Linked DNA regions of Homo sapiens. The protein of the gene in region 1 interacts with the protein of each later gene in a pairwise test. Each region holds a gene or a part of one and is shown on either strand. Other genes may lie near its edges. The genes, in order: SOX6 and SHOX.

Region 1 (7,129 bases):
CTACCCGTCTAGAGCTGATTTCAGGGAATGCAGAGTAATTTAGATACCCTCTTAAAATATGACTACTATATAACATTACATATATCCTAACTTCTGAGGAAAAGAAATAGAAAAGCCTCTCATATGAGGACATGAATTCTTATAAATTATAATTGTCTGTGAAAGCTGAAGAAAGGTTTTTACCACCAACCCAAATTTCCACATTTTTTTATACACACCAAACAGTCTGGTTTCACAAATAACTAAAGTGCTGCTATCTTGTATTTCTCCCTCTGTACTTCCACCACCTCCTCCCTTTCTTATAGCTATTTGCTTTAAATTTCTCACTTGCATTTGCTGGAATTATCATAAACAGCTCCAGGAGAACATGAGAATCCAATTGTTTCCATGAATCATTGCACAGAATTGTTTGAGTTATCATTATAAAAGACAAGTATGACTACCTGCTGTCTTGCATACTTAAGGGATTCTTTACCAAGTACATATTTGCACACCTACCAAGGTACAGAATTTCTGGTTTTCCCAAGCTGTGGTGTTAGTTATAGGAAAGAATCCTGCATTATTTATCTGGTCCTGTTCTTTCTTCTCATATAACCACCACCTCCACCTCACGATTTCCCAAAATTGAGTAGTCCCCTGAAAAACTTTTACATTTATCATGCCTAATCTACCAGCTTTTTAGATTTCTTCAAAAGTAATACTTTATTTGCATCCATGGTGCCTAGAACTGGAAAACTGCTTGCTACCAGTCTTACCAGGATCTATTGCCAGAAGGAAAAGTACAGTATAATGGAAAGGTTTAGAGGAAAGACTTAAATCTCATTTACTATGTCTGTGAACTTCAGAAGTTACTTAACTCTCTGAGTCTCTATGTACCCATCTATAAAATTAGGGACAACACATCTTCCTTGAAAAGTTGTTGTGAAGAGATTAATTTGATATATGTGCAAATACCTGGTATTTGGTAGTTATGAAACAAATGCTAACTTTCTTTAAAGAAAACTTGACAGAAAAATGGTTTGACTCAAACAAAAACAAATAAAAATCCTTAAAGAAAAAGATTCTGAATTTTTACACATCACAATAAATAAAAATTCCACGGAATATAAGTTTTCCAGTCCCAATATACTCGTGACCCAGTGCTGAGTGAACTAATGACAAGAACCATGCCAAGAAAATAAAAAGCACAGGGTAAAAATATATTGTTACTGTTTCTCAAAAGGGGTATGGACAGGAGGGAATCACTTTTTACACAGGGAAGACCAAAGCCTACAGCATCTGCTGCTGATAACTGTATTCCTAAGGACAATAGAGTCCTGAGCTGTAGGTGCCTATTCAAACCACCTATTATTAACCTCTTTCCTTGATTTTCAACTAAAACGGTCCAAGTATTTGGAGACTGTAACCCATTTGCTCAGAATTAATTTTTAAACAGAAGCAGCCTTGCAGTATACTAAAATTGCTACCAGAGCTTAAATTAACTTGACAATAAATAAAAAGTCTGAGCTACCCTATCCTATGAAATACATGAATACCTTTCAAAGCCTGATTATTTTCTTGTCCCCTGGCCCAACACTAAATGTTCCAAAATGTTACTTGTTTCACACAATTTTTTTTTATTTCTAAATCAGGTCTAAAATCAAGTTGCTACTAGTGTGCTAAAGAACCCCAGCACATTCTCATGAGCTGATTGAAAGCAGCTTACCTTAAAATTCTCCTCTCACAATTCACTTTAGAAAATCAACTTGAGGAGTCATAGATTTGCTAGACTAACTGTTTGGTATTCTGGTCAATTCATTATCACAAAATAGGTATTATTAACTGTACCACAGCTTAGAACAATGACACACTATTCCATGTGTAGTTTGAGATCACTATTTCCACAATTTGAAGCTGAAAGTTCCATCATCAAGATAAACTTGCCTAAAGACCAAACTCACAAACAATAAGGTATCTAGGAAAGCTGGATAAGGAAAGAAACAAATTAATATTTTGAACTTTGACAGGCATGATGGAAAACAAATTCAAGGTGTGTGTTACTCAGAAAAATTCAAAAGAAATGTATCGCAGAATAAAAAGGAGTAAATTGAAAAGCATTGATAAAGCACTATTTTTAATGCACTTGCCAATCATCAATTTAATTTACTATAGTTTTATATAAATAATACTTTCAATACATAGTTATAGCATTAAATACTATAAATCTCAATGTAATACCAGTCTTGCTTAGTTATAGCAGCTTATGAACATTAATAATTTTAAGTTTTTACTAAAAACACATCAGCAATTACCCAGTGGTCTGCTTGTCAGTTGTGTTTCTTTGAAATGTTTATTATGATTAAATATTTTCATTAGTAAAAACATCTTTTACCATAGTGCATAAAATACCTTATCAGATGCAGCATATATTAGAAACTAGCCGTGTATATTGGAAAGATTGATTTTATTGAAAAGATTCATGTAGGGAATCTATGATTCCTCATAGATAATAGTACTCAGGACCTTAGATTATACAGAAAAAATAATCACATGTTAAAAATCTACGAGATGCTACAAATAAAGGTATGCATATTCAACCCTCAGGAAAACCAAATCTGTTTTTAAATAGTCTGTTGCAATTCCCTAGCAAGATTACAAATGTCATGCAAAAATGCTTTTCAAGTTATTACCTTATTACCATAACATAAGCTTTTCTTAACAAGCCATCATCCCACCCAATCAGGTAGGCTTTGAAGTTAGAAAAATTAAAAGGTAAAGTAATACAGCCAAGACCTGTGACAGCTAAAGGAAGCACAAATCACTCACATGAAGTGGCTGCTCTTCCACTCTTCAATCCGGCTTTCTCTTACCACATCAGCCAGAACTTCAGAACTTGAGGGCATAACACCTTTGACACCTTCCCAAATCACAAGAAACCTCTGACTGCCAACCAAAAAAAAAAAAAACCCAACCCCACAGCTAATTAATCTCTGCCAAGTCTCAGGCTACCAATTGTAGCCATAACTTTAAGCAACATCTAATTTGCTAAACAAAACACTGTTAACTTTGTTCAACAATTAAAGGAGTTAAAAACATAAAAGTAAATGAAAGAAGTGAAATCTCTTGGCCTGTTGGGAGATACAGTACCCCACATACCTTCTGCCACTGCTGCTACAGTTAAGCAAACTTTACAAGCTAGTCAAGCCATCATCCAATAGAGCCTATTTGCTGAGCAACAGTGGAGCTTTGTGGTTTGCCTCACAGTTGACAGTAAGTTATGAGCCCTTTGTGAGCACAGGGGAAGGAAAACAGAGATCGGAATTTGGCAGGAAAATATAATACAGAATTCTCCTGTCTATGGAACCTGAATTTTTGTGAAAACAATCAAGCATTGTTGAAAGAAAGAAAAGCAACTTTGACAGATGAAATATAGAGGGGCCCCTTTTAGGAAAACAGTAAACAAAGCGCCATTCAGGCCAGGTCCATTCTGTCATTTATAAAGATAGTTTCTTCTGTGTGGTGAGAGTTTACAGCAAAGAGTTCAGATTCAACAAATCAAGTGTAAAATCTCCCACAGTCCCCATTAAAAAAGCCTGCTAGGAAAAGACAGGAATGCCAAAGAGAAAAATATCACAAGTTTTTCTGTTTGGTAGAGAGGATACAATAAGTAGATGGGGTGAAAGGGACTCTAAGAGAAGTCTGAAAGACAAGCCAAAAAACTAACAATTGTTAATTATAAAAGGCTAATTTTGTCAGAGACAGGAAAAGAGGAGGACACTGGAGATCACTCAATAGAAATATGAAAGGAAGAAGCCATTCTTCATCATTGTTGGAGAACTATGTCTCTATTTCTCCAGGCTGGACCTCATGAGGTCATCATTGGCACGAAAGGCTCAAAAACTTGGGCTTGGTACTACTATAGTTTGGCCATCTGGAATGTCAGCACACAGTGCACTACTTTCTCCAAAGTATCTTAATTCCTCTTTCCAAAAATAGGCACCCTGGCCAGCTTTAGTCACCCAGACTGGAAAATGTACAGCACAGAATGAAATGAAAAGCATTTTTGTTTTCTCACCCTCCTCAACTAGAAATACGATTTCTGTGCGGGAGAATTAAGGAAGAGGGGCCCAGAGCACTGAAGCTCTGATTTACAGAGCCTATTTCTGCTATGCGTACGGTCGGCAATTGTTAGTACTTATAACCAACTGAGTTTTGGGCATCCATGGAATTCTTAAAGACGTATGTCTTTTCAGCCAACACAGTCATTGTTAATGCTTTAAAGAATAAAAAAGAGGGACCACAAGCCAATAAAGTCACAATTAGAATCAAATGACACATTGCTTGCACATCATTTGGAAAACATGTATAAAACTACTTGGTTTTTGCTACACCCAGCTAAAGTGACAGCCTTCGCTGTGTGTTAATCTGGAATCAAACCAAGCCACACCTAAACAAATAATGCTTAGTAGATGCAAAATAATACGGATTCTTTTATTTAGACTACCCAAACAATTTATTTCACCAACGAAATCCCATAATAACTAGCTACATTTTAAACATTCCTTTTAAAACAAAGCCCACAAAATGCTGAAGTGTGCCCATAGGTCAAGAATAATAAAAGCAAGCATGCATATGGATTCAATGCTGCAGATTTATTCAGCATTGGTTAATGGTTTCTATAGAGATTGATGTCAATCTCTCTGGCCTTTCTTGTGTCAACAGTAAGTTACAACAAGAAAGATCGTGGCTTTTGCCTTTGATTAGAAGAGGTATCTTTCTCTAGTTGACTGAAGGTCACAGCATTTGCAACATGTGCTCACTTATTACAGCTCCCATGCAGAATGTATACATAAAAAGCTGATTTACTCCCCAAAAAGGGCCAGAGCCATAGTGAACAAAAGATGACTCTGACCACATTAGATGGTTTTCTTTTCAAATAAATTCAGTCCTGATAAACCATTAAACATCAGCACATTACTAATAAAACTATAACTAGGAGACATCCTTCCACTCTGCCATTCTCCTGCCATCAACGACTTTCAAAATTATAGAATGCCAGGACAAATCATTACATTGTTTTACCTTAAAAATATATTTTACAAGAAAATTCTCAATTTTATTATGAAAGAACAAATAGTTCTACCAACAGGAAAGTGTTACAGCAAACAAACAGGGTAACTAAGGGGAAACCCAGTTGGTTTGAACATCTAGCAGCTGAACAGAACACAACATGACTAAAATATACATATATGCACATCGATTCATGTGGCAGAGCATCAACTTATGCCCCAATTACTGGTCTAGAAAGAACACCTAAATAAGAAGTGTTTGGAGAAATTATCTGGAAGACAGGCCATAAGAGGGAAAGAAATTAGCAGGATTTTTCTCAATAAGCTTCCTTTCAAGTAGTAGATATTTTGCCACAGTGTTCTGAAGGAAACAGAATCATGGTTTGACCTGAAAGAGAAAGAAAAGAAAATCCCTTTTCTCTGGCCTCAATTCTTTATCTGTAAAATGAGGTATGTTTCTAACACTGAAATTTTATTAGCCTATGACTCTAAGGCAATCCTAATAGGAGAAATACTAAAATTGGCTTGTGAACCAGAGAAGTTGCCAGTTCTGTGTCTACTACCTCTTTTATTTAGCCTACAAATATTTACTGACTACCTGCACTGTGTCAAGTACCATACTGACTGCCAGACAGACATACAGAGGCATATAAATAAGACAGCAACTTCCCATAGTCCACAGTCTAGCAAGAAATATAAATGGAAAATAAACCATTGAAAAGTGATAGGATAAGAAACCAGGTACTAGAGAGATATATTGTAGGAGCCCAGAAGAAGGAACAAATACCTCATTTTGGAGGGATCAGAGACATTACAGAAGACTCACTTAACCGGGTCCTCAGAACGAGAAGTTTGTCTGGTGGAACTAAAAAAAAAAAGGACATTCCAAGATGTGCAAGGGCTGAGACTTATAAAAGAATATGGTTACATTCCAAGAAGAGGAAGAACTTTGAAGTGACTGAACTATGGAGTGCATGGTGGGAAGTAGCAGGAAAAATATCTAGTAGGACAGAATGACAACAGATTGGAAAGGATTTCAAATGCAATTCAAAATAGTTTGGGTTTTATCCTCTGGGAAATAGGAAATCATTGGATTAACATAGGGAGTAGTAGGTCTGAATTTCCCTTATGAAAAAAAAATCTCCAGTGGCCTTAGGAAGGATGACTCATCCAAAAGGTTGTATATATGTTTATGCTCCTGTCATTTGTATTTATCTGTGCCTACCTGTCCTTTTCTTATCTTGTCCTTGGTGTTCTGCTCGACATGTGATACTGACCAGTTCCTCTCTACCTCTACGTTCTTTCAAGTCTCCATTTTAAGTCTCTACAAATGCCACTGATAAATGTTGTTGAAAGAAGGTAGATGAAGCGAGTAGGGAACGAAGAGGAGGAAATAATATGAATAATCACAAAGGAAATATCAAAGAAGAAGAGAGAAGTTATACTAATAAAAATAACAACCTAATGGCTAATGGTACTGAGTGCATACTATGCGACAAGCTCATTACTTTATGCTTCACAGTACCTCATTAAATCTCAAAACAACCCCACAACAAAGCTACCAATTTATCCCCATTTGCAGATGAGCTAAGTGAGGCTTAGAAGTGGTTAAGTAATTTGACTATGGTTACAAAGTAAATGAGAGAGAAGAGATTCAAGTGAGTCCTGTCTGACTCCAAATCCCATGCTTTTAACTTTTACACTATACTTCTAATGATATCAGTTACTGAATGTTAACCATGTGTCAAAAACTATCCTAGCTGCTTTGCACAGGCTATGTCTAAGACCTACAATAATCTTAAAAAGTAAATATCATTGTCCCCCATTTCACAGAAGAGAAGGGAGACTGAGTAGCTGATCTAAAGTTGTACAACTAGTAAGAGGCATCACCAGAGTTTGGGTGGTGATGCCTAGTCTGTTTGGATGCACCCTTTCCACTACATTATGATGTGTATATATTCTGATTCTTTCCTTCCCTACAGAACTCTTCCCCATCTCTACATTTCCAGACTCTACCTTCAAGGCTCAGCTAATATCTTACTTCTTCCAGAAGCCTGTCCACAAAATATTAGTTCACCATT
Region 2 (7,284 bases), on another chromosome or scaffold:
TGAAGAGCCCTGTGAACCCAGCCCAGCCTCCCCAGGGAGCATCCTTCCCATGAGGCTGAACCAAGCACTTTGCACCTCTGGGAGCTGGGAGGTGACTGATGGTGGGCGCCCAGACACTTACCGCCCCTCTGTCTCCAGCCCTGCATCACTGACTACCTAGTACTGGAAATTGGGGTTTTTTTGGATTTTTTGTTTTGTTTTGTTGTGGTGGTGGTGGTTCTGAAATCAAGTCTCGCTCTGTCGCCCAGGCTGGAGTGCAGTGGCACTATCTCGGCTCACTGCAAGCTCCACCTCCCAGGTTCAAGCCATTCTCCTGCCTCAGCCTCCCGAGTAGCTGGGACTACAGGTGCCCACCACCATGCCCGGCTAATTTTGTATTTTAGTAGAGACGCGGTTTCACCATGTTGGCCAGGCTGGTCTCTTGTTTTTTGTTTTTGCTTTCTTTTGTTTTTGAGACGGAGTCTTGCTCTCTGGTCCAGGCTGGACTGCAGTGGCACTATCTCGCCTCCCTGCAACCTCCACCTCCCAGATTCAAGCAATTCTCCAGCCTCAGCTTCCCGAGTAGCTGGGATTACAGGCGCACACCACCACACCTAGCTAACGTTTGTATTTTTAGTAGAGATGGGGTTTCACCATGTTGGCCAGGCTGGTCTCGAACTCCTGACCTCAAGCGATCCACCCTCCTGGGCCTCCCAAAGTGCTGGGATGACAGGCGTGAGCCACTGCACCTGGCCTAGAACTGGAAATTGGGTTTTCTTTTTTGATTTTTGTTTTGTTTTTGTTTTATTTTGTTTTTGAGACAGAGTCTTGCTCTCTCATCCAGGCTGGAGTGCAGTGGTGTGATCTCACCTCACTGCAACGTCCACCTCCCAGGTTCAAGCGATTCTCCTGCCTCAGCCTCCCGAGTAGCTGGAATTACAGGTGCTCACCACCATGCCTGGCTAATTTTCGTATTTTAGTAGAGACGGGGTTTCACCATGTTGGCCAGGCTGGTCTCAAACTCCTGACCTCAAGCGATCCACCCTCCTGGGCCTCCCAAAGTGCTGGGATTAGAGGTGTGAGCCACCGCACCTGACCTAGAAGTAGAAATTGTTAAATCATCCGTGCCCTGCCTAAGTGAGACCTATGCGTTACCGCTGATGAACTTAAGGTGAAAAAGTGAGTTCCGAGCCAGTGGAAGTGGACTGTCGAACTTTCCAGCGTTCTGTGTGGGCGCCCCGCCCCCCAACTCCTGTAGACCCTGTAGGAGAACCGAAGTTTCCACCTTCAGACTTTAGCCACAAACGGAGAGGGTGAGCTGATGGCTAAAGAGTTCCAAATCCAGCCCCTTCTCCAATCTAGCTCTTGACACACCAAGCCCAGAAAATGTCTTTGCCCTTCTCGGCCTCCTCGGAAGTGTCTTTGCCCTTCTCGGCCTCCTCGGAAGCCCTGGGGAGCTGAAGGCGTCCCATTCATATTACCAAGGGTCCCCATACATGAAAGGGTCCCATTCATGACCAAGGGTCATGAGGACGCCCAAGGATAGCAGGCTTTGTGGTGGGGGCATTCTGCCCCTCTAAGGACTTCTGAGTCTTGGGGTAAACTATCAAGAAGTTGAGTGCAATAGCGCAGGGGACCCTCAGGAGGCTGGAGAAATTCACACAGGCCTCATGTGAAGATTTGCATGCAAATTCCACCCCCTCTCACCTCCTACGAGCCTCCTCTGCTCTCCCAGTATTGACAATCCCCTCCTCCACAGACAGACCAGCTGGAGAGTGCAGGCAGTTTAGCCTATGCCTGGTAATCTGGACACCACCCCCTCCTCTCCCCCACCACCACCTCCCTGACAGTCTTAGTCGCTTAATTCCTCCTAACAGGTTTTCTGTGGCAGAAAACCTGCACCTTGACCCACAAGGCAGTCACCACCCAAGAGAAATGATTCGTCCAGAGAACAGGCGTCCTCCGCCAAGGCGGTGAGTGAACCAGTCACTCCGGCTGTTGTGGGCAAAACACGTGCTGGGTCCCTCGGCCCACAGCCACCCTTACACACTGTGCATGGCCCAGGGCCGGTGCCCCTATGAAGGGAACCTCAGAAAACCCTCAGAGTTTGGGAGCAGCCAGGAGTCTACACAGCGCAACGTGAACTTGCTCTTGAACCCAACACGGAAGCTTCCAGCCCAGCTTTCGGAACTGGCTTTTCATTTCCAAAGTGGGTCCTACCGGGCTGCAGTGCGCCTGGAGAACCTGATCCTGTTTCCCAGCAAAGTCATCCTCCCTCACACCCCCGCCAAAAAGGCCCCTGCCTGGTGCTGACATCGAAATTCACCAATAATTTCCAAAGCTGGCGCCTTCAGACCTCCACCTCCACTGACCATCCAGGTGACCTGCCACTGTGCCTCTCCATGCCCACCTGGACTCTCCGCCTGTCTCCTCCAGGGCCCAGAAAGCAAGCCAGCCACCCAAAAGCCTCTGGAAGGGCATTTTTCAAAAAAGAAAATCCTCCTGAAACGTGGAAAGCCTCATTCACTCTCCCTTCAACACGGCGAGAGGAAAAAAAAAAATGATGAAGAATACAAGTGATGAATTAGCCGCTGCGTGAAGCGCTAATAAATCAGTCTTGGAGTGATTCACGATCCATTCCAATTAGGCCCGAATATGGTAAGTGAAGTGTGTGACACTGCTTAAGACAGTTATTTCTTCATTAAAGAGCACTCCCCGCTTTCTTTCCCAAATGCCGTAATGCGATTTCCTTTTGATTTCCATTACAGACAGTGAATAATGACATTTAATTTAGCTCTGCGCCATAAACCCAAAGATATTTGTTGTAATTAAATTACCGCCTGCCCCTCACCGTGGTCTCATAACTTTCGATTAGAAGCCTGACAGCTGGGTGATACGACTTTGCAGGGCCACGCTAAAAATAAAAGGTTAATCAGCAACAGCTTCTATCGGATGCTCAATTTATTTACAGCAAATTTCCACAGTAAATTGAAACTCTATCCGGTCACAGCACGGGACGGGCTGTACTGAGACGCATGTGACCCAAGAATTCACAGAGAGATGGGATTCAAATATGGTTTCTTTTTCTGTCCCTGCTCGTCCCCGTCCCCTCAACGCGGGACGTGGGTGTTGGAACTAATTGATTTTTATGACCCCTCAAAGCGCACTCGCCTTTACTATAGGATCCTTTCCCCCCGCGGCGATGGAGAATTATGTCTTTTATTGCATTCCCATGTTTGTTGTTATTATTATTTACCGTCGTTAAATTTTCATGCGACCCCTGCAATCGATAACCCCCAGCTTGTCCCCGATTTGTCTTTATTTTAGGGCGTTCTCGGGGTCCGCACACACCCCACAACCAATTTTCCGCAGCTGAACTAACGTGCTCTCGTCGGTAATAGACTACGGAAAGAAATAGTGTGGAATTAAATTACAAGTAATTTATTTTTATAGAAACAGTACATCAAGGGCTGGGATATATTGCAGATCCCAGGCACACAGACACCAGGAGATGACACATAAACTCGATGTCCCCTTTAGCGAAACTTTAATCTTTTCATTAATTTATACGGGGCAGCCCAATCCATCTTCTGCCAGAGGGGTGGACAGCGAGGAAACCCCTGTCTGATGCAGCTTCCTTCCCTCACTGAGGCCACAGACGCCCTAAGGAGGGACACAGTCCTTCCTCCAAGTCACCAAAGCCTCTCTCCCTCCTGGGCTGTATCGCTTTGGGGACCACAGCCCTCGGTAAAGATGCCTGGGGAGGGTTGATTTAATCCTAACGATCTTAGGGAAGCCTTTTAAAATGCAGCCACATGGGAAGACGGAAGAGAATCAGGAGCCAAAATATATATATATATATATATATATTTTTAAATGAAAGAGCTCGTAAAACCCTCTCCATCAAACGCATCTGTATCCTCATCTCCTAAGCAACATCGATGGAAAAGTTGTGTTTGAATGTGTTGACTCAATCACCCATCCCACAGGAACCGAAGGGAATCAGGGGCCAAAAATATATATATATTTTTATATGTATATATATGTTAATATATATATTTTTATATGTATATATATGTTTATATATATATTTTATGTATATATATGTTTATATATATATTTTATGTATATATATGTTTATATATGTATATTTTATATGTATATATGTTTATATATATTTCTTTATATGTATATATATGTTTATATATGTATATTTTATATGTATATATGTTTATATATATTTCTTTATATGTATATATGTTTATATATATTTTTATATGTATATATATGTTTATATATATATTTTATGTATATATATGTTTATATATGTATATTTTATATGTATATATGTTTATATATATTTCTTTATATGTATATATGTTTATATATATTTTTATATGTATATATATGTTTTTATATATATTTATATATATACAATATGTTTGTATATATTTATATATGTTTATATATTTATATATGTTTATATGTTTATATATATTTATACATATTTTATATATGTTAATATATTTATATATTATATATGTTTATATATTTATGTTTATATATTATATATGTTTATAGATTTATATATTATATATGTGTTTATATATTTATATATGTATATAGATTATATATATTTACATACATTTATGTATGTTTATATATTTATATATGTTTATATATAGAGACACACATATAATGAAAGATGTAACACACTTTGGATCAAATGCATCTGTATCTTCCTCTGCTCAGCAAAATCGAGAGCAAGCTGTGTTTGAATGTGTTGACCTCATAACCAGTCCTACGGGAACGGGCTTTCAGTTCGTCTCTTTGCTTTGAACGCCGTTTGCTTTGTCACGGTTCTCTCTCTGGTCGGCAATCTTAATTTCATTTATTTTTGACGGGGTCCCCAGGGTCCGGGGATCCTGACCGTCTCTCTCTCTCTCTCTCTCTCTCTCTCCCTCCCCCCACTTCTGTCCTGCCCAGAACCAGGAGAAAGGACTAGAGGAGTTGACCTTCCAGGGGAGCTGAACTGTCAGGCAGGGGCTGGAAGAAGCCATTTGGAGGCTCTCCCAGCAGCACCCCTGAAATAAACTCATACCTTTAAGTGAATGTTTAGAATGCGGAGGAAGGCTCTGCCCGCCCGTCCCTCTGCGCACACCCAAGGCCCCTCCGCCCCCCAGTGCCTGGTCTCATGGGGCAGCGTGAATTCGCGCGCTCCTCGGGGAGCCCCCGTGCCCCGCTAATAGTCTCCGCTCATCCAGATGCCCAACGTGCTCCTGCGCTCCCCACAGCCGGAGGGAGGAGGGGGTGGTTTGTAGCAGAGGACAGGGCTGGAGAGGGGAGGAGGGAGATAGAAACGGTAGGTGAAAAAACGGAGGAAAGAGAAGACCCTGTTTCTCTCCACCTAGGGACAGAGGACACCCCTCTCCTTTCATCCTAAGGAAACCTTTTCAATGCAGCCACACGGGAAGACGGAGGGGAATCAGGGGCCAAAAGACACATTTTTTTTTAAATGAAAAATCTTGTAAAACACTCTGGATCAAACGCATCTGTAGCTTCGTCTCCTAAGTATAATCCAGGGAAAGTTTTGTTTGCATGTGTTGCCCCTATAACCAATCCCAGGGGAACCGAAGGCAGTCAGGAGCCAATATATGGGTTCACCGGGTGTCTTTGCACCAAGGACGAACAAATATCTATAATATATACAATATACCCATCTGTATAACATATATATTTATTTGTTATTTGTATAATATATATGTATATATATTTGTTTGCTGTTGGTGAAAAACAAACGCAATGAACCCATCCTACAGGCCTCAGGCGTCTCCAAAAGTCCAGGAACCCCAGCCCGTCCCTCACCCAACCTCCCCGCGCTCCGGGAAGGGGACGGCGGCGGCCCGGGCGCAGGTGGCTGTACGCGTGCTGTGCGCTCCCGAGGACCAGGCGATGGCTCCGGGCCCCCCGCCCCCGCCCCCGGGTTCCTACCTGCACGCGCGCCTCGGAGAGCCCCAGGCGCTGGCTGAGCTCCTCGCGCATGAAGGCGTCGGGGTAATGGGTCTCGTCGAAGAGTCGCTCGAGCTCGTTCAGCTGCTCCAGCGTGAAGTTGGTGCGGCTGCGCCTCTGTTTCAGCTTGGTCTGCCCGTCCTCGTCCTCCGACTTCACGTCCTCGCGCTTCTCTTTGCATTCATAAATCCCTGCGTGGGGAGCGGAGGGCACAGGGCTGAGGCCGGGGAGGTTTTGCGCAACGTGGCGAACCCCTTCGTGCATCCCGCGGTGGAAAGGGGGCCCTCGAAAACCAATGCGCTTTGACGCAAAAACTGCGTGGGGTCCATAAGGCAAAAGCCGAGGAGGATACTCGCTGCTTTCCCAAAAACCTGGGCTTTGCACGAGCGTTGTTTTCTTGGCCTCATCTCAGAATCGTTTCCTCAATTATCCACTTCACCTCTGTTGACATAACCTAACCTTTTTTTCTTATTTTTTTTTTTAAGGAGAGTGGGGTGTCAAATCCTATTTTTAAGGGAAAGAATTTGAGGAAGAGCTGCCAACTGTGGGATCCCCGGCGGGACGCCCGGGAAGGACACGGGGAGGACCCGGGGCGGGTTGCAGATTCTAGGCCTACGGAGAGACGCTATCCCCACCGCTGCAGCGCAGGAGGGCTGGGGGTCCCTCCGCGATCTGGCGGAGCTAGGAGCCCCTACCCGAAGCCTGTTTCTCAGCAGAACAGCAGAACCGCGTCTGAGTACCTGAATGCGCCACCGCGCCTGGGGGCTGAACCGCGTGCGCAGAAATCTCTCCTTCCCACTTTTTCACACGCGGTCGGGCACCTACCCCACCAGAGTGTGCCAAAAATGGCACTTTCTCATCTCCAGTAGTTGGTGACCTGTCTGTATTTGCTGGGGGAGTCAGAAGGGCAGAAGACTCAGCCCTCAAGCGTTTCCAGGTGAAAAACCTTTTCTTCCTCATTTTAGACATTCAGCCTCTCTGACCAAGCTCAGGGGTTTAAGTAAAAGGTGTCTCCCTCGCTCCCCTTCAACCCAGGGCTGGTGGAAGTGGCATCTCCAACGCCCCTCTGTTCCTATCTCGGGCCTGCTGAGCACAGATGAGAAGCACGCGATGCCCTAATGAGATGTCCCTTGCTGTCAAGGGTAAGGGGCTGACATTTGGAAGTTTAGTCTGGAAACAGTCTCAAAGGGGCACAGGCAAGGCCGCTGCAACCAAGAAGCTTGCAAAGCTGACAAATCCAGGGTGTCTACAGGGAACGGGGTAAATACTAGCACCCTGTTCTGTCTTTCTTCCTTC

Evidence for each region.
Region 2: the proteins of SOX6 (region 1) and SHOX interact in binary tests that used the Homo sapiens proteins (3 or more experiments, as listed by UniProt).

The regions. Positions count from the first base shown.
Region 1 is NC_000011.10:16,353,289-16,360,417, forward strand, and holds the start of SOX6 (transcription factor SOX-6), read right to left. Parts: upstream 3,259-7,129; 5' UTR 2,806-3,258; intron 1-2,805. UniProt on the Homo sapiens protein: Transcription factor that plays a key role in several developmental processes, including neurogenesis, chondrocytes differentiation and cartilage formation.
Region 2 is NC_000023.11:633,513-640,796, reverse strand, and holds part of SHOX (short stature homeobox protein), read right to left. Parts: intron 6,180-7,284; coding exon 5,971-6,179; intron 1-5,970. UniProt on the Homo sapiens protein: Controls fundamental aspects of growth and development.